Regions from separate parts of the Homo sapiens genome. Here region 1 is linked to region 2. The links come from fine-mapping of genetic effects on plasma protein levels. A gene starts in region 2. The other region holds a variant in brackets. All regions are shown on one strand. Distances are from middle to middle.

Region 1 (9,890 bases), 45 kb after region 2:
GCCTGGCTAATTTTTGTATTTTTAGTAGAGACAGGGTTTCACCATGTTAGCCAGGTGGGTCTCGAACTCCTGACCTCAAATGATCCACCCACCTCGGCCTCCCAAAGTGTTAGGATTACAGGTGTGAGCCACTGTGCCTAGCAGGCAGTCTTCTTACAATGCAGGTGTTTTGTTTGGAGGTCTTTGCAAATCTAAATTTGAGGTGCTTCATGAATCGAATATATTTTGTATTTTTAGTAGAGACAGGGTTTTGCCATGTTGCCCAGGATGGTCACAGCAAACAGTGCTCCTGGGCCCCCTGTGATAGGCCCCAGGGCAAGAGTTAAGGCCCAAAAGGACTGAGGCCTCAGGTGCCGCAATTTCAGAATTAGTTACTCATTTCCTTCCTCTCCTCCGGTCTGATTTTCCCTTCCCCACCAGCCTCCTGCGCTCCTCTCACTTCCCTTTCTCCCCTCCTAAATTCTCCATCCTCTTTTCTGACCTCTTCCTGCCCTCCCCTTCCTCCCTTCCTTCCCTCCTTTGAAAGTCTGGTCCTCTAGAGCTGTGGAAAAGACTGGAATCTGAGCCCTGGCCTGCAGCCAGCAGGGAGCCAGGAGGAGCAGCTGCAAGGTCAGACCAGGGTCACATCAGCTGCTGAGAGAGAGAGGAAGTGAGGCTGCCTGGGCTTCCTGGCCCTCAGGGACAGGCTTACTCCACATGGCCCCTCTCTGCACCCCTGTTCCTGCTGAAAGGTGCCAGGATATGCCACCCCAAAACATACCACTTTGGCATAAGGATTATTTTGAGCTAAAGGCACTTGAAAAACAGCAGATGCAAGAAGGGCATTCTAATCTAGTTTCTTCCTGAAAACAGGAGATACGGACTTTCATTTGAAAGATGCCCTCCCTGTACCAGGAGAAAAGAAACATTCTTTGAGTTACTCAGAAGACACTCTTTGTTTGCTGGGAAGATTGTGGCTTATTTTAAAAGCAAAAGCAGCATCCCTCACCCAGCATCACTTTGCTCAGGGCTGCCTTTTGTTAAGGAGCTCCTTAAAACCAAACTCAGGAGGCATTTTCTTTTTTCTCCTATGACCAGAGTGTGTTGGCAAACAGGCTGCTCCATGCCTAGTGTGGCCACTCCCAGCGCACTGGTCGGGAATGGGAGGGAGGAGACTCTGTCCCCTTGACCCAGTTTTGGGGCGAAATCCAAGAGCCTCCTTGGCTCTGTGCGTCTGCCTCTTTGAGTGTCTGCAGCACCAGCTCTCCACTGGTTGTTTTAGAGTTTCAGGGTCTTAATGATGTCGAGACCGTAATGGTGCCAGGGCATTGGTGCTGGTTATTGGTTCCACAGGTCACTCCTGGGCTGGCCCTCAGTCTTGTCCACATGGCTCTGGGGAGGTATGGGGGTCACTCTGCCGCTTCATGTCACAGAGCCCTCCATGCCCCGTCGAGTCCTGTCCACGCAGGCCTTCTCTCTTGGGTTGCTCCTCCTGAGACCCATCCCTTCTCTGTTCTCATCCTCTCCCCTCCAACACCAGCCCAGGAAAAACCTTTCCTACATTTTGGGTCCTTACCTGTAATCTCCTCTGTTCTTCCCAAATGTTTAGACTTTAGGGATTGGAAGCTGGGAGTTCTTAGACTGCTATCGACTTTCTTTCCTTCCACCACTTTCTTCAGTAAAGGAGCACAGAGCCCAGGATCTGCTTTAAAGGGGCGGAAGGAAAAACGGGGCAAGAATCTCGAAAACGTGGCCCCACTTCTGAGTGCTCGTCACCTGGCACAATACCTGGTACACAGCAAACAATTGTTAAACCAAAAAAAAAAAAAAAAAAGCTGGGCACAGTGGCTCATGCCTGTAATCCCAGCACTTTGGGAGGCCGAGACGGGTGGATCACCTGAGGTCAGGAGTTCGAGACCAGCTTGACCAACATAGAGAAACCCTGTCTCTACTAAAAATACAAAATTAGCTGGGTGTGGTGGCACATGCTTATAATCTCAGCTACTCAGGAGGCTGAGGCAAGAGAATCACTTGAACCCAGGAGGTGGAGGTTGCAGTGAGCGGAGATCATGCCATTGCACTCCAGCCTGGGCAACAAGAGTGAAACTCCATCTCAAAAAAAAAAAAAAAAAAAAAAAAAAAGAAAAGAAAAGAGAAACATGGCAGCAAGAGAATGAATAAATGCAGGCCACCTGGCTCAGAGCCGCAGGACTTGAATTCAGATCCCAGCCCCCTGGCTGACCTCCCTGTGTAAGTTCTACTGACCTAATCCATAAAGGAGGGGAGGGATGAGTTCATCGCTGGGATTCCTTCCAGCCCCCAAACTCAATATTTTGTATCCACATAGGAAAAAGAAAGAATATTTATGCAGTCGTCCCACTGAACTGGAGCAGGGAAGAAACCTGCCTGGATGATTCAGGCTCACATACACAATCATCTCCAAATATGCTTCCCTTCTGTCAAATGCCATCTCCTAAATATCACCAGAGCAACCTGCGGAGAAGGCAAGGCTGAGTTGATTGTTCACCGTGGTAAGGTAGAGTACCCCCTCCACAAAGCCTCAGTAGCTTCCCAAAGTGGGAGGGCAAAGTGATTTTTATTGAGACTTTGAGGCCTGGTTTAAGGTGGCTCTTTCAGTGCAGAGGTGGCATGCTTGATGGGGGTTGCTAAGATCATGATTGGTAGACACAGCAAAGTGAGGATTTCTGGCTGAGGCGTTCAAAGAACCTTGGGGTATAAACTGTCTTCCTATTGAACCTATAAACTGATGCTTCCTGTTGAAGACATGGTGTGTCCTTCAGGAAGTTCCTGGGATGAACAGTAGAGTTATTTACAGCTTTTATCTTCCTGGGCAAGCATTTTCTGGAATAATAGTGAAGTTACTTTGATGAGGACAGTGGAATAGTAAAGTCATGTTAATATAGACAGTGAGCTATGAGTGGTTTGATTCTCATCCCAAGCTGTCTTGGTTCGCTGTTTGAATGACTGTGATGTCCCCTCCACCAAGAAGGCTGACGCCTATGAACATGTGTACTCCCTTTCCCTCTTGGTCCAGCTGGATTTGGCCCATGAAGGCAGGGAGCAGAGTGAGGCTGGAATATTCATTTCTGTTCTCTTTCTGCTGGTATTACCCAGCAAGCAATGGGCTCACTGCCTGATGCACACACAAGCCAATACCATGGCACTGAAAACCTTTATTGGGAATTGACTGGCAAGACAGGAGGCAAGGCTGAAATCTATGTCGCCTAGCTGGTGGGCTGGGGCAGGTTTTATAGGCGAAGGGTAATGAACCATGATCTGATTGGATCTTGCAATGAGGTGATGCTGGGGAGGCATGATCTGACTGGATCCTGCCACGGGGTGACACTAGAGCTCAATCTGATTGGATCCTGGATCCTGCCATGTGCAGTCCACCTCTGAAAGCAGTCCTTGCTCCCGGCTTCCAGCACTTAGGTTCCACTTGTGGTTGCACACTTGGTTCATCTGGGCATGTTCAGGTTACTTGACTTTCAACTTGGGGATCCATGGCAACCAAAAAACAACTCACGACTTTGTTACATAAAAGTTGAACCAGGGCTGGGCACGGTGGCTCACGCCTGTAATCCCAGCTCTTTGGGAGGCCGAGGTGAGCAGATCACGAAGTCAGGAGATCGAGACCATCCTGGCTAACACGGTGAAACCCCGTCTCTATTAAAAGTAAAAAAAATTAGCCAGGTGTGGTGGCAGGTGCCTGTAGTCCCAGCTACTCAGGAGGCTGAGGCAGGAGAATGGTGTGAACCTGGGAGGCGGTGCTTGCAGTGAGCCAAGATTGCGCCACTGCACTCTAGCCTGGGCAACAGAGCGAGACTCTGTCTCAAAAAAAAAAAGAGTTGAACCAGATTGGTCTGGTGTGATTACACTGGGTTGCCCTGGGTTGGTTGCCTCCGCCTGTTTCAGCCCTCAGCTCCTATCACCAGCCTTCTCAATAGCTTCTCTCTTGAGTTGGGGTAACTGCTCCCCGACTTGCCCTTTTATGCCTAAGGGAGCCTAGCTCCTAGTATCCCATGTGGCTCTTTCTCTCATTTCTTATTCCCAATGAGCATGTGTTGCTTTCCTAAAGGCATTTCCATAACATTATACTTTTAAAGTCAACTGTGTGTGAGTATAAATGCTATTGGACATCAGGGGAGAACTCGGAAAAAAAAAATGTTCATTTTTATTGATAAACTTTTTAACTAAGGCAATTTTCAAAGAAAGCTAAAATCATGACATTCCTACAAACATAAAATGGACATGTTAAAATTGTATTTAGTGCATCATTAATGAAGGCTGGTAAGATGTGACAACCGGTTCAAATGAGAAGTCAAAAGAGGCACAAATTTATATGGAGAAAAGCAATGTTGAAGTGTATTTACGAATAGAAGGAAATATATTTACGAATAGAAGGAAACATATTTCAAATAGAAGGAAACTGGCTTTCCTTTGGAAAATAGGAAGTAAATTGAACCACCTCGGGACAGAATGTATTTGCATGCCTGCAAACAGGAATTATTTACATTGCTATCAGTTATCTACAATTTACAGATTTGAAAAATAGCTCAAAGGCAATGAATGGCCCAGAGACCCTAAAGCATCGCACTCAGATAACCTGGAAGGGTATGCTCTAAAGGATACACAGTTTCCCAATGAAGCACACATTTTTTCCTACGTGACATTTATTAAGCAGTTAATACTTGCAGGCAGTGATCCAATCCATGGGGACTGATAGTCTGCTTGGAGATTTAAGACACAAAAGAGCTGAGCCGTCTCCCTCCAGCAGTCTGATTAGTGGAGTGTTTATTATACTTCCTCTCAGTGACATAAAGATACTCCAAATTGAGTTCCATCATCAAGCTTTCCTCTTGAGAAAAACAAAAGTTTCCACTGCTTTCAAAAGTTTGAAAGCCACCAACCCATGTCCAGCAGGTTCATTTTATAGAAGAGAAAATGAAGGCTCAGAGAGGAAATGTGGTCTGCCCTGGGGCGCGCAGCTTGTTAACTCATGTCTGGTCGGAAGATGGGCTTTCAGGGCCGAGAAGGTGCTCCTTTTTGGCATTATTAGGTGACAGAAAGAGCTCCTGGAAGGGAGGATTTAGGAAGCAGGCTGTGACAGATGGTTTTCATCTCCTGTGCTCTGGGAAATCGCTACCACCCTCTAATTGGATGTTGGGAGCTTCAAGCAAACTGGCAATCTACATTGTATCATTGTTCCGTATCCCTAATTATCCCTTGGGATTTGGCTTAAGTGCAGCTTAGAGGATGTTCATTAATAGTGTCGACAGGGACACTCAGCATTTGTAAAATTCTTTACAATAATTGAAGACCTAGCATTGTTCTGGTGTGGTAAGGAAGCATGTTTGCTCCCAGCCGAAAGATGACTTAAGCTAAGAGGGTGGAGACTGGCTGACTTGGGAGTTGTTTTTCTAACGTCCAGGTCTGAACTCACAGTTCTACAATCCTTGTTTTCACCGGCTCAAGGAAGCTCCTTGATGAATTACATGAGTTCAGCTTACTAATGGGCTTACTTCACCAGAGTCAGAGTGATCTGTCCTTGGCATTTCATAACCCACTTCAGTTTCCTATCTCTTGGCCACCGTATTGTCAAAAACCTCATATTCCTGTGGCCATGACCAGTTCCAAAAGAAGCTTTGTCTCCACAGACAGATCGTGGTTCCATCTGGGCCTACCACCAAAAGCCTTGTGATTCCAGATGGAAAAATCCCCACACCCCCCCCCGTTTCCAAAGCAGCCCCCCATCTCGATTGTTTTATCTACAGTCAGCAGCACGAATCCTCCACAATCAGAGTCTCTCCGGGGGTGGAAAGAGTGGCTAATGGGGGATACAGCTCATCTTCAAACCCTGTGCCATGTGAATGGAAAAAAAAAATGCACACATCTGGCTGGGTTAGATAAAGAGGAGGGCTGGGGCAAAGAAGCCGGGAGTGGTGGTGGGGGCTTCCCTCTATCAAAGAAAACATTAAGAAAAAGGCTGCTTTTATTGCAGAGGAAAATTA[A/C]AACTTTACATTGTGACTGGAGCTGTTCAACCATCTACATTTGGCTGGGCACGATGGCTCACGCCTGTAATCCCAGCACTTTGGGAGGTCGAGGCGGACGGATCACCTGAGGTCAGGAGTTTGAGACCAACCTGGCCAACATGGTGCAACCCCATCTCTACTAAAAGTCCAAAAATTAGCTGGTCATGGTGGCAGGCGCCTGTAATCCCAGCTACTCAGGAGGCTGAGGCAGGAGAATCGCTTGAACCCGGGAAGTGGAGGTTGCAGTAGCCAAGATCGTGCCATTGCACTCCAGCCTGGGCAACAAGAGCGAGACTGTCTCAAAAAAAAAAAAAAAAAAATCTACATTTTTGTTGTTGTTGTTTTCAAAAGATATCCTTGAGGAACCCCAAGTATTTGGCTGGAATCCTTTGGTGACAGCCAGTTTCCTTCCAGGAGGTTGGAACAGAGCTGCATGTGTGTACATGTGTTTGGGGGGATACAAGGAATTGAGTGGTTTTCTTTCAATCATAGCCTCACCCTCCTGCCATTTGAGGAAGACGGAGGGAGAAGGACAGGATGGGAGGAGATAATTTCTGAAAAAAATTTTTTTTTTTTTTTGAGTTTCACTCTTGTTGCCCAGGCTGGAGTGCAATGGCGTGATCTTGGCTCACTGGAACCTCTGCCTCCCGGGTTCAAGCGATTCTCCTGCCTCAGCCTCCCAAGTAGCTGGAATTACAGGTGTGCACCACCACGCCTGGCTAATTTTTGTATTATTAGTAGAGACGGAGTTTCACCATGTTGGCCAGGCTGGTCTTGAACTTCTGACCTCAGGTGATCCACCCACCTCAGCCTCCCAAAGTGCTGGGATTACAGGCGTGAGCCACCATGCCTGGCCTGATGATTTCTGAATTTGAGGAATGAAATTTCAGCTGCCAAAGAGCACCTGGAGATGTGTTTCCTCCTCCCACACCCTCTTTCTCTCCCCACAGCCCCTACTTACCCCAGTCCCCAGAACCGCCTCCCCTGGAGGCATCTGGGACATCATTCTCACTACTCATTTCCTCCTTCCTCAGCTACAGGGGAGGCCAGCTTTCTGGTCTTCTGTTGCCCATATTGGACTTTATTTGGTGCTCCAAAGGGAGGTAGAAATTGCAAAGGACTCCCCTGCCCTTGCATATTCTGTAGATTCCCATCGCATGCTTCAAATAAGCCGTGTCCATTCTTCCCCCAGAGCCTTGCCTCTGTACCACCCCAGCTTCCCCCACTTCCTTTTTGCTGAGAACTTTCTCTGTATTCATGAAAGTTCTCCCTAATAGCCTGAATAAAATAATCTCCTTAATTATCCGGGGCATTTCTTTCACCCTGTACTGCCCACACCAGGAGTCTGAAATAGAACCATAAGCACCTTCAGCGTTAAGACAGGGAATTACCTTAAGTGGTTTCAGGAAAGATGTGAGCAGGAGCTACTTAATGGGGTGAAGGTGAGGCTGCCTTGAAGATGAACCCTCCTTTTGGGCAGTGTTTCACTTCAAAACCTCAGAAGCGGTGACCCTAAGGAGATTTTTATTAACACACCTACGAAGCAAACATAAACCCCCCTCTGTGTGCGTGTGTGCACGGATGTGTGCTGGGGGGCAGTGCAGGAGAGGAGGGGGTGCTGGAGAATCTCCAGGTGAAGGGGGATGCAGTTTTGTTCCCATTACAAAGACCCCTTGTCAGCCCGCTGGCCAGGCTGAAAGCGCCGGCCACTTCCCATTCAATGCCAGCTCTCCTAAGTGGGCCGGGTGGCTGTGGCCTCGGTTAGGGCGGTTGTATATTTGCACAGATCTGCCATTTGTCATGTTCCCAGAGGTCTTCAGGACAATGACTTTTGTGGGGGTATGCTGGAGGAAGGTAGCTTTTCAAAATTGGGAACCTTTTCGGCTTGCTAAACGGAAAAGGACAATGGCCTCTTTGTCCCTAGTGTAAGACAGCTGTGGGGAGCCCTAGGAACCCACCAATGGTAACTTTAAAATGCTGCCTTAAAGGTATTGAACAAGTCTGGGTGTGATGGCTCATGCCTGTAATCCCAGCACTTTGGGAGCCCGAGGCGGGAGGATCACTTTAGCCCAGGAGTTCAAGATCAGCCTGGGCAACATGGTGAGACCCCATCTCTACAAAAAATATAAAAAGTAGCCAGGTGTGGTGGTGCACACCGTAATCCCAGCTACTCAGGAGGCTGAGGTGGGAGGATCACTTGAGACTAGGAGGTTGAAGCTGCAGTGAGCTGGTGATTGCACCAGTGTACTCCAGCCTGGGTGACAGAGAGACACCCTGTCTCAAAAAAAAAAAAAAAAAGAGAAAATAAAATTAAAAAAAAAAGATAACAAAATAATAATAGCCACTAGTTTAAAGAAAAACACTACCCATAATTGTGACATTGAAATACAGTATAGTAACTGATTAATGTTTCCATTTTTATATATTAGGTTCCAATCTCACATTTTACAATTGGGGTAGTGCCAATTTATGTCTTTTCACTTAACATTATGCCATATAATCATTTTCTTTTCTTTTCTTTTCTTTTTTTTTTGAGGCAGAGTTTCGCTTTCGTTGCCCAGGCTGGAGTGCAATGGCTTGATCTCGGCTCACCGCAACCTGCACCACCACGCCTGGCTACTTTTTATATTTTTTGTAGAGATGGGGTCTCACCATGTTGCCCAGGCTGATCTTGAACTCCTGGGCTAAAGTGATCCTCCCGCCTCGGGCTCCCAAAGTGCTGGGATTACAGGCATGAGCCATCACACCCGGACTTGTTCAATACCTTTAAGGCAGCATTTTAAATTTACCATTGGTGGGTTCCTAGGGCTCCCCCCAGCTCTCTTACACTAGGGACAAAGAGGCCATTGTCCTTTTCTGTTCAGCCTCCTGGGTTCAAGTGATTCTCTTGCCTCAGCCTCCCGAGTAGCTGGGATTACAAGCATGGGCCACCACGCCCGGCTAATTTTTTTGTATTTTTAGTGGAGATGGGGTTTCTCCACGTTGGTCAGGCTGGTCTCGAATTCCCGACCTCAAGTGATTCACCCACCTTGGCCTCCCAAAGTGCTGAGATTACAAGCATGAGCCACCGTGCCCGGCCCCTAATCATTTTCTTATAATACTATAATATCTAATTCTATTGGGTCAATGGAGCATATTTATTATGGTTGAACCTTTCCTCTGGTGTTAGACATTGTCTTTTAGTCTCTTTTTTCTTTGCTATTGTAGATAATGCTGAAATTAACATCTTTGGATATACAATTCTCTGCTTCTGAAGAATGAAAAGATAAATAACAGAGCTAAGAAAGGGACTGATGAAACTTACAACAGCAGGTCTCAAATTTTTGGTCTCAGGACCCCTTTATGCTCTTAAAAATGATTGACAGCCTCCAAGAGCTTTTGTTCATGTGAGACATTTTTATATTTGCCTTGCTATATTAGAAATTATAGCTGGGAAAATTCAAATATTTATTAATACATGTAACAATAACTGTAAAAATCCATTGCATGTTAACATAAATTACACATTTTTACCAACAATAGCTATATTTTCTAAAACAAAGACATTTGCAGAGTGGTGTTGTTTTATATTTTTGCAAATCTTTTAAATGTTTGGTCTACAGATTCTCATATCTCCTTCATTCCATCTCTTGTGATTTTTTTTTTTTTGAGATGGAGTCTTGCTTTGTCACCCAGGCTAGAGTGCGATGGCGCAATCTCGGCTCACTGCAACCTCTGCCCCCCGGATTCAAGCGATTCTCCTGCCTCAGCCTCCTGAGTAGCTGGGATTACAGGCGCCTGCCACCAAGCCCAGCTACTTTTTGTATTTTTAGTAGAGACAAGGTTTCACTGTATTGGTCAGGCTAGTCTCGAACTCCT
Region 2 (9,890 bases):
GGAGGCTGAGGTGGGAGGATCACTTGAGCCCAGAAGGTAGAGGCTGCTGTGAGCCATGACTGTGCCACTGCATTCCATCTTAGGTGACCAAGCGAGACGCTGTCTCATAAATAAATCAAAGGAAAGCACTCTGGAGTCATAATAAGTAGCTAGAGGAGATGTCCAAATTCCCATTCTGCAGGAGCTCTGTGGCCTGAGCCATAAGAGACCATAAAAGACCTTCAGCAGCTGGGTCTGGGGTCAGTGGCCACTAAGCTTTTAAAGGGGGTGGAAGCCTGAAACATCAAGGACAGACTCTTATCAAGGAGCCTAAGCTGTTGCTGGATTTGGGATCTTTCTAGAAATTGTTGCCCTATAACATACTGGCATCATCCCTGTAAAGGCTGCTTCTCCAAAGCGCTAGTGGGGTGTCGATGAACACTCACTCCCTGCTCCATTACTGGGTATCTATTAGAGGCACTTAATGAAGCATCACATGCTTTGCATCATTAATTCCTCTAACATCCTCTTGATGGGCATTGCTATTAGCTCCATTTCACAGCTGCGGAAAACTGAGGCACAAGAAAGTTGCCTGTCTTCCTCATATAAGTAGTTATGGGAGATCAAGGATTTGAACATGGTAGCTTTGACTCCAGAGTGCTCTCCTTTTATGACACCAGCCTGCAGGGGTCCCAGACTCAACCACATGCAGGGGCCGGGCAAGTAACATACACGGGGCAGGCAGGCCTGGTAGGTGAGTGGTGGAGACAGTGGCAAGATGGGGGAGTAGGACTCACTCCCCAGCCCCAGCTGACAGCTGCCACGTGGGACTGCAGATTCCCATGTGTTCCCAAGTCTTCTTATTTTCTGAAAAGATGCCAAAACTCTGGATCTTTATGTGAGAAATCTCCCAATTTTCCCAACAAAACACTTCTTGAGCCCCACACTGTGTGGCCGCTGTAGGGAATGACCCTGTGCCAGCTCCAGTGGCATGGCCCCTAGGGATGGTAAGGGCGGGGTCAGCCCACCCTGCCACTGGCACCCTGGCACCCAGGCACCCAACCCACGCTGCTTCTCTCCAAGGCCTCCTGGACTCCACTGCACTCCCAGACTCTAAGGGTACCTTTCTACTCAGAGCCCAGGTAGAGGAGGGACCTCATGCAGACTCATGCGATTTATCTGAGATCTGTGGTTTGAAGAGGGGGAGGTTCAAATTTTTCCAAACCTCTCACAAAATTCCTTCTACCCTAGCGATGGAAGTCTAGGGGTCTGTCACAACACAGCCCCCACCCCTAGACTTCCTTCATCCGTGTCTTTCCTGTACATGAGGACTGAAGATGACAGAATGACATTACAGACCAGTTACTAGTGAGCTCACTATTTCTTTTTTAGTTCCCAGGAGTGGTGGCAGTTCTGCAGGGAACCATTCACACTCTTTTATGGCCTGATTTAGACATAAGCAAGATGGCTGGAGAGCTGCCCGACTTGTTCACGTGGGAGCAGGGTGTGACTCTGGCCTCATCGGGACAAATGATCTGAGCAAAACCCAGTCTTGCCGCTTGATAAAGCACATAAGTAAAGGTGATGGATGTCTGGCCGGGCGTGGTGGTTCACGCCTGTAATCCCAGCACTTTGGGAGGCTGAGGTGGGTGGATTACCTGAGGTCTGGAGTTTGAGACCAGCCTGGCCAAAATGTTGAAAATGAAACCCCATCTCTACCAAAAATACAAAAATTAGCCAGGTGTGGTGGTAGGTGCCTACAATCCCAGATACTCAGGAGGCTGAGGCAGGAGAATCACTTGAACCAGGGAGGTGGAGGCTGCAGTGAGCCAAGATCATGCCACTGCACTCCAGCCTGGTGGAAAGAGTGAGACTCCATCTCAAAAAAAAAAAAAAAAGGTAACTGATATCCAATAACCAGGTACTGGTTTGGGGCTTTACAGTTTGTTAAATACTTTAACACACAGTCTCTCATTTCTTCCCCACAATCAACCTCATCTTATTGATAAGAAAACTGCATCTCAAATAGGTGGAAGAGGCCATATAGATAAGCAGGTGACCCCTACCAATGTCAATATCCTTTGACGCAATACTTTCGCTTTCAGAATTTTTCCCAAGGAAATAATCAGAGATGAACCCCAAAATTTATATTTTAGAATGTTCACCATAGTATTCATTTTAGGAATAAAACTGGAAACAACATCCAACTCTAGGGGATTAGCTAAATAAATATTAAGTCAGTGCAGAGCACATTTATGCGGCCATTCCAAATCAATCTACATTTTGTTTCCCCTGGAAACATTAGGCAGTATTTAAACCTTCAACCTTTGATTCTCTTTTTCCCAGAAGACACTTTCTGATGGCTGTACCAATAACTTGGTAAAAACAAAACGGGCCACTTGTCCTCATGTCTAATTCACACTAACTTCCATTCTTCCTAGCCCCCTTCCTTCCAACCTGGGCAGGCAGGGCTAAGCACTGGGCTCTGAACTCAGTCCAAAGGGCTCTTTTTTGGAGATTTCAGGCCTCTGCATTTGGCAAAGTGCCTCCTAGTCTTGATCATGTTTTTTTTTTTTTTAATATCTGGCATGTATTTCCATATAGCAGCGTACAGCACAGAAACTCTCAAATACCCTTTCATTCAGCAAACACACACACTAGTGCCTGTTCTGTGCCAGGCACACAGGAGGCCTTGGGAAGACAAAGATGAATGAGATACAGCCTCTGTTTTCGTTGGTGACACAACTGAAGTATAGCTGTCATGGAGGAGGAGTTACAGCCAACACAGAAAAATTATTTCATTTTATGCTTCTCCATAAGACCTCTTCTAATGTGCTTGAATCTACTGTCCAACAGAGAAGAGGACCTGGACACTTCCCTCCACCACCACCCCCCGCCCTTCTCCTGAAGACCTGAAATTGAATCTCAGTTCTGCCACTTACTGGCTGTGGGATCTTGAGTTCCTACTTGAGTTTTCAGCTTTCTCATCTGTAAAATGGGAATCCAAACTGTACTTACGTCACAAGGCTGTTGGGAGAATTCAATGACATAATGCACGAAAATATTTTCTCAACATATGAAGCCCTGCATCTCCTTAGTCATTCATTACATTTGTCTGCTCACAGTTCTCTGGCTTGGCAAGTGTCATCAAGCAAATGAGACGTCAAGCCATCCTACTGTGTTTGTTAGTTCCATCTGCTGCTGTCCCCTCCTGTAAAACGTGGACATTTTAAAAGACAGCGGGGAGGGCCTCCTGGAGACAATGTATGTGAGCCTCCCTCCTAGAATGGCAGTGAGAGAAAGTTCTCCTAGACAGGTATGATATCACTGCATTTTAAAGATCTTACCGAGCCAGTGGTCCCCTGCCCCGTGGGAGGAGAGTGTGGCTTCACTCTTGGCCCCAAGGTCACTAAAACCTAGACTGTGCTATCACCCCCCTGACCCGTGTGTCTCACCTTGGGCAGGTCTGTGGCCCCACGGATCCGTTGCGCCACCTTCTCTCCATCGGGGTGGATCTTGGCCACGTGTTTCCACATCCTTTCCCAGGTGGCCTCATCCACAGGTAGCCCACCCCGGTTGACAAAGAAGGGGACGCCTCCGTCTCGCAGGTCCTCTTCCCCTTCCTCTTCTGGCTCCTCATCTCTCTGGGCTGAGGTTCCTTCGCTGGTCTCCAAACGCCTGACCCCAGAGGGGGCGGTGGCCGCAGCGGACGTTGGAGTGGCACCGCTGCTGCCACCCCCAGCCACCTTCTTCCCCCCTGGCATCCCTAAATCTTCGAGGGGGGTGGTGGAGGCGGGAAAACAACTGGCTCACAAGAGGCCTCCCACACACCGGCTGCAGAGATAACACATGGCCAGAGTGCAAGGCGCCTTTAAGAAATCAGGGCGTGGCTCCTGTACAATAAAATACGACTTGATAAAAAAAATCAGTGCAATAAGGTGAATTAGGGTCCGAGGGGGTGGGTTGTCTGGGGTCAGCCTTGGAGGCCTTGTTCTGTTTGAAAAACGGAATAAAGAGAACACACCCCAACTTGGCAGCCGTCACAAAGCACCCCCATCTAACTGCGAGAACAATGACGGGCAGCAGTGAGGGCTGGCAGAGCGGAGAAAAGTCGGAGGGAAACTGAGGCCAGACAGCTCGGACCAGCGGCTGCAGAAAGGACAGAGTCAAGGCACGGGTGCCCACTGGGCGCCCTGGGTCTCAGTTTCGGAGGGAACAAAATCCCCTACACAACTCTCGCACGCTCACATCTGCGCGCGCCCCAAGGAAGACCGAGGCGACTCCCGGCCGCGCGAGCTCGGAACCAAGACCCCCGGGCGGGAGAGCGGCGCTGGGGGGCGATTTCTCCGACGCGACGAGACAAGTCCGGGAGCCAAGACTCGCAGCTGGCCGGGAGCGGGGAGGGGGCGCGCGCCGACGCGCACATTCCCCGCCTGCGGCCAACTCCCTGCACAAAGTGGGCTTTGTCTGGGTCCCCTGTCCCCTCGTCCCCAGAAACAGCGGCGGAGTCCCCAGAAAGGGAGCGGGCGCGGCGGGGAGGCGAAGGCTGCGAGCCCCGAGGCCCAGCGGGTCCCCACTCGGGCGCGTCTCAGCGGGAGGACGGCTGGCACCTGGCGCCGCGCTGCACCAGCCGAGCCATCGCAGGGCACGGGGCCCGCGGCTCAGCGGGACCGGCTCGGGCGGCGCGCAGGGGCCAGGCTGAGGTCACTGAGCGGCGGGCTGCGGCCGCGGGGTCGCTGCCTGGGACTGGCTGCAGCATGGGCGGTGGCGCGGCCCGGGCGGGCGGAGGATGCTCCGTGGCTGTTCGCTCGGGCTGCAGCTGCCCTGGCTGAGGGTGGAGGAAGGACCGCGGGGCGGGGACCGCAAGCCCGGAGGCTCGCGCAGCCTCGGCCGGCGGATGTAGCTGGAGGCGAGTGACGAAGCCGGGCGAGCGCGCGCTGCGCTGGTGCCTGGGGAGCAGCCCGCCAACGCGGAGCCCGCCAACGAGAAGCCCACCAGCCGATCGCTGCTCGGCGAAGCTGGGGCCGCCGCTGCTGCAGCCCCGCCGCCCCTGGGCCCCGCTGCCGCCGACCACGTCCCCTGCCAGCCAGCCGCCCACCAGGCTCGACTACGGCCCGCGCCGCGCATGCGCTCCGTCCCCCCCTTAAAGGGCCAGCGCCTTCGCGCCCAGTCCTCCGCCCCCCGCGGCGGTGCCTCTGTCCCAAGTTACCCCAAGGACGCCGGTGGGCATTCGCTCCCTCCTCACCCAGCTGTCAGGGCGCCGCGAAGCCGGTGCGAAGCTGCGGAGGACGTTTTCAACGTGCCAGAGGGAGCGCAAACTCCATGGAGATTCCTAGCGCAGAAGGAATTCCTGCGGTCGGGAATTTCTTGAAAAAGATTCTTCGCAGGGGCCCTGAGCCGGTAGGACCGAGAGCACTGGCCTGGAAGACTGGGATTCTAGACCGGATTCAGTGCCTGTGTTGCTTTGGGACGTTCAGCAGTTCCCTTCCCTCTGTAGGCCTCAGTTTCCCCATATCCCAGCCGAGGTGGTCACAGTGAGTGAGCGCAGAGTCCCTCCCAGCGCGCACAGTTCTTAGAGGAGGACATCTAGGGATTGAGACGGGGGGTCACTATCTCTGGAAACGAAAAGGGTTAAAAGTCACCCTGTTTTATTCGATTGCCTGCACTGGTGGGAATGGGGTGCGCAGAGCTCACCCCTAGACCATCTGCCTAGACCGGGCTTTGGACGCTCTGGACCCCGCGGACCAGGGTGGGACCGCGACGTGGGCGTGGGAGGCAATGCTTGGGGAGGGTCCGCTGGCCTAGAGGAAGGTGAAAGTACAACCAGCTGTGGTGCGTGGTTGGACACTGGACGCACCCTCCGCCTCCCTCATGCCATAGAGTTGTAAATGGTGGGAAAGGCACTATCTCTAGGCTGAAGCCAAGAACTTTAGGAAGAGACGGCCGAGTGTGTGCTTTAAGATGCTCCCCCTCTCCCCTGCCTGTAGTTAGCATGAATCACAGTCTTGTGGGAGAATGCAGATTCCTTGGCCTTAGCCGGCAGATTCAGATTCCTTAGTTGTGGGGTCGTTGCATTTCTTGACAAGCTGAGGTTACTACACAAGGGCTGGGTTAAAGGCCTTAGAGAGACCCCAGGGCCTCAGTGGTTTCACATCTGTTCTCTAAAGCTGTCCCTAGTATCTGAACTTTCTGGGTACCCTGTGCTCCCGTAGCAACCTCTTACTACCTCCAGGGTCAGAAACCAAGGGTTATCAGTGATGGGAAGGATTGCAAGACTCCAAGAAAGTTAGTTCAGCCTGGATCTTCTTAAACTCACTAAGGCAAGAAGACTCCAAGCGTAGAAAAATCACTAGGGATCAACAACTATCACCCTGTATTGTATAAACCAAGTCTCAGAGGGTAATTTCCCCAAACTCACACAGCTAGTAAGTGGCAGAGCTAGAATGTGAACAGAAGTCTTACTTCTTCAGACACTTGTTTTTCACTCTATACATTGCTTCTTGTGTTAGCCAAGTGGTGCTGGTTTTAAAATTGGCTTGCAAGCTCTTGACCATTCTTTTCAAAAGATGGGATCTAATTCCTTTCCCCCTGAATGTGGGATGTACTTGGTGACTGGTGTCTAATGAATAAAGTGTGATGAAAGTGAAGCTGTATGACTCTTAAGACCAGGCCATAAAAAGGAGACAGCTTCTTCTTGGTTCCTCAGAAGAAACCAGCTACCATGTTGTGAAGAAGCCCAAGCCACATGGTGAGGCCACATGAGGGTGTTCTCGCTGACAGCTGCTGCTGGGCTCTCAGCCAACAGCCAGAGTCAATCACCAGATCATGGCAAACCGAGACTTCAGGTCTTGCCAGCCCTCGGCCTTTAAGTCTTAGAGTTGAGGTCCCAGACATGGAGCAGAGAACAACCAGCCCTGCTGTGCCCTGTCTGACTTTCTGTCCCACAGAAATTGAGAGAGGATAAGTGACTATTCTCGTTTTAAGCTGCTAAGTTTTGGACTAACTTGTTACGCAGCATGAGATAATACCATGTGTTTTCTGAAATGACAAATAAAATAGATGTAGGGTATTCATTCAAAGAGTAAGTACTCATAGAACATCTTCTATGTGTTTGACTCTGTACTGGGCACTGGAGAAGCAGTAGTGAACAAGAGGGACATGGCCTTTGCTCTAGTTGGACTTATGGCCTACTAGTGGAGGAGATAGTTAAGCATGATTTCCATAAGGTGCTCTGCCAGAGGGTTATTCAGGAAGCTGTGGGAGTGCATACCCAGAGCAACTTCCCAATCAGGTGAGGAGCTGGGAAAAGAAGAAATGAGTTGGGTACAAGGTCAGCATGGACTAGGCTAGAGAATTTTCTGGCATGTGTGCATAGAAGTGGAAGAGGGTATGTGTCAGGCAAGGGGGCTTGCAAATAGATTAGAAAATGGTGAAACTGGAAAGAGATGTGTATAACCCAGTCTTATCTAAGCCAAAAGCCCAGAGAGAACAAGTGACTTAACCTGGTATGGCACAACTTTTGAATTGGTCTCAGATCCTGGGTCCTTCATCAAGCCCTCCCATGACTCCCCACACCTATGCCTTGGGAACAACTCCTCCAACAGACACTTGGGTAACTCCTTATTTGGCTCAAAGCTTTCGTGACCGTTATTTTTCTTTTTTTTCTTTTTTTTTTTTTTCCCCTGAGACAGAGTCTCGGTCTGTCACCCAGGCTGGAGTGCAGTGGCTCGATCTCTGCTCACTGCAGCCTCTGCCTCCCAGGTTCAAGTGATTCTCTGCCTCAGTTTCCTGAGTAGCTGGAATTATAGGTGCCTGCCACCATGTCTGTCTAATTTTTGTATTTTTAGTAGAGATGGGGTTTCACCATGTTGGCCAGGCTGGTCTCCAACTCCTGACCTCAAGTGATCTGTCTGCTTCGGCCTCCCAAATTGCTGGGCTTACAGGCGTGAGCCACCGCGCCCGGCCCTCATGACAATTATTCCTTTTGCTGTCTTCACAAAAACCGTGGAAGAGTTAGGATGAGTATGATTTCCATTTTACAGATGAAGAAAGGATGCATAAGAGAAGCTAGGCAAATTACATACCTAGTACAGGAGCAGGCACATCTGAGCTGCTGGGTACAAGTCACTTTCATGATGACAAGGATGACGATAATGACGCCTAACTCATATCATGTGTCACATTTGTTATCGTCACACTCTGGACTAATGGTCTGCAAATGAACGCATGTTGTCTTAGGGCATCAACACTCATATTAATCTGCTCTGACACATTTTCTATTCTTGTGACACAGAAGCTAGAGTGAAATTTCCAGAGAGAAGAGTCTGTTGACTTAGCTTGGATCCTTGGCTAGAGGAGGATGGGGCAATTTCATTAGCCAAGACTACAGGTGGTTGGGGGAGAAGGACTGCCCTAAAGGTAAATGGGGTGCTGTTAGTAAAAGAGGGGCATGGAGGCACACAGGTATAGATGTGTTTATAAAAGGTAGATGTTCTGACTCAACTTTTTGCTGTTTTCATGTTCATAATTTATGAGGTAAAAGAAGAAAAGAAAAGGAGTTTAATCCCAAGAAAGAATCACAGAGCAGAACTGTCCAATAGAAATTTCTGCAATGGGCCAGGCGCAGTGGCTCATGCCTGTAATCCCAGCACTTTGGGAGGCTGAGGGGGGTGAATCACGAGGTCAGGAGTTCAAGACCAGCCTGGCCAATATGGCAAAATCCTGTCTGTACTAAAAACTACAAAAAAATAGCTGGGCGCAGTGGCAAGCACCTGTAATCCCAGCTACTGGGGAGGCTGAGGCAGGAGAATTGCTTGAACTCAAGTGGCAGGGGTTGCAGTGAGCCGAGATTGCATCACTGCACCACAGCCTAGGTGATAGGGTGAGACTCCATCTCAAAAAAAAAAAGAAAAGAAATTTCTGCAATGGTAGCCAGAAGTTCAGTATGGTAGCCAGAAGTCATATGTGTCTATTTAAATTTGAATTTAATTAACATTAAATAGAATTAAAAGTTCAGTTTCTCCAATCACGCTAGCCATATTTCAAGTACTCAGTAGCCATTATGGCTCATAGATACTGTAATGAATAGTACAGATTATAGAACATGTCCATCACTGCAGAAATTTCTTTTCTTTTTCTTTTCTTTTTTTTTTTTTTTGAGATGGAGTCTCACCCTGTCGCCTAGGCTGTGGTGCAGTGATGCAATCTCGGCTCACTGCAACCCCTGCCGCTTGAGTTCAAGCAATTCTCCTGCCTCAGCCTCCCCAGTAGCTGGGATTACAGGCGCTTGCCACTGTGCCCAGCTAATTTTTTGTAATTTTTAGTACAGACAGGATTTTACCATATTGGCCAGGCTGGTCTTGAACTCCTGACCTCGTGATTCACCCCCCTCAACCTCCCAAAGTGCTGGGATTACAGGCGTGAGCCACTGCGCCTGGCCCATTGCAGAAATTTCTATTGGACAGCTCTGCTCTGTGATTCTTTCTTGGGATTAAACTCCTTTTCTTTTCTTCTTTTACCTCATAAATTATGAACATGAAAACAGCAAAAAGTTGAGTCAGAATCTTCATTCATTTACTCAATAAACATATACTAAATATCTACTCTGAATCATACATGGTTGTAGGCACCAGGGATACCTGGCGAGGATCTTGGAGCACTTCTGGTCCAGTGGAGCTTACATTAGGATCACCCCAGGGGCTCTTAAAATTCTTGATCCTCAGTCTGCACCCTGCAGAAATCCTGATGAAACTGGTTTGGAGTGGGGCTTGGTACCCATAGTCTAGAAAAGATCTCCAGGTAATGCGAATGGTAGCTGGGCTTGGAACCACTGAGATCTAGACTGGCCAGTGAAACGATTTGCTTCAGGTCACCTGAAAACCTGAATCTGCCTGGGTCTGACTTCCGCTCTG

Direction of the effects. Positions count from the first base shown, and alleles are read on the strand shown. Strength reflects both the effect of a copy and how common the allele is.
In carriers of allele A in region 1, the plasma level of the protein whose gene starts at base 5,097 in region 2 tends to be lower than with C alone (weak association).

What was found. PIP is the posterior inclusion probability: the model's chance that the variant is causal. Protein levels are from antibody-based Olink assays in UK Biobank. Linkage for the fine-mapping came from a reference panel and not from the study's own genotypes, which makes the PIPs less certain.
Region 1: its variant is fine-mapped to the plasma level of the VASH1 protein (UK Biobank, PIP above 0.99).

What each region holds. Positions count from the first base shown.
Region 1 is chr14:76,711,211-76,721,100 of GRCh38, reverse strand. All of the region lies in intron 1 of LOC105370577 (a long non-coding RNA gene), which reads left to right. Among named protein-coding and RNA genes, the nearest start is that of VASH1, 45 kb to the left of the region's middle. RefSeq lists an enhancer at 442-601. The variant A/C (reference allele first, on the strand shown) is at 6,012.
Region 2 is chr14:76,756,675-76,766,564 of GRCh38, reverse strand. It overlaps VASH1 (vasohibin 1), which reads right to left and starts at 5,097. Exons shown (of 7, transcript NM_014909.5): 1 at 3,435-5,097. The coding sequence starts at 3,743. RefSeq lists silencers at 4,571-4,840, 4,941-5,130.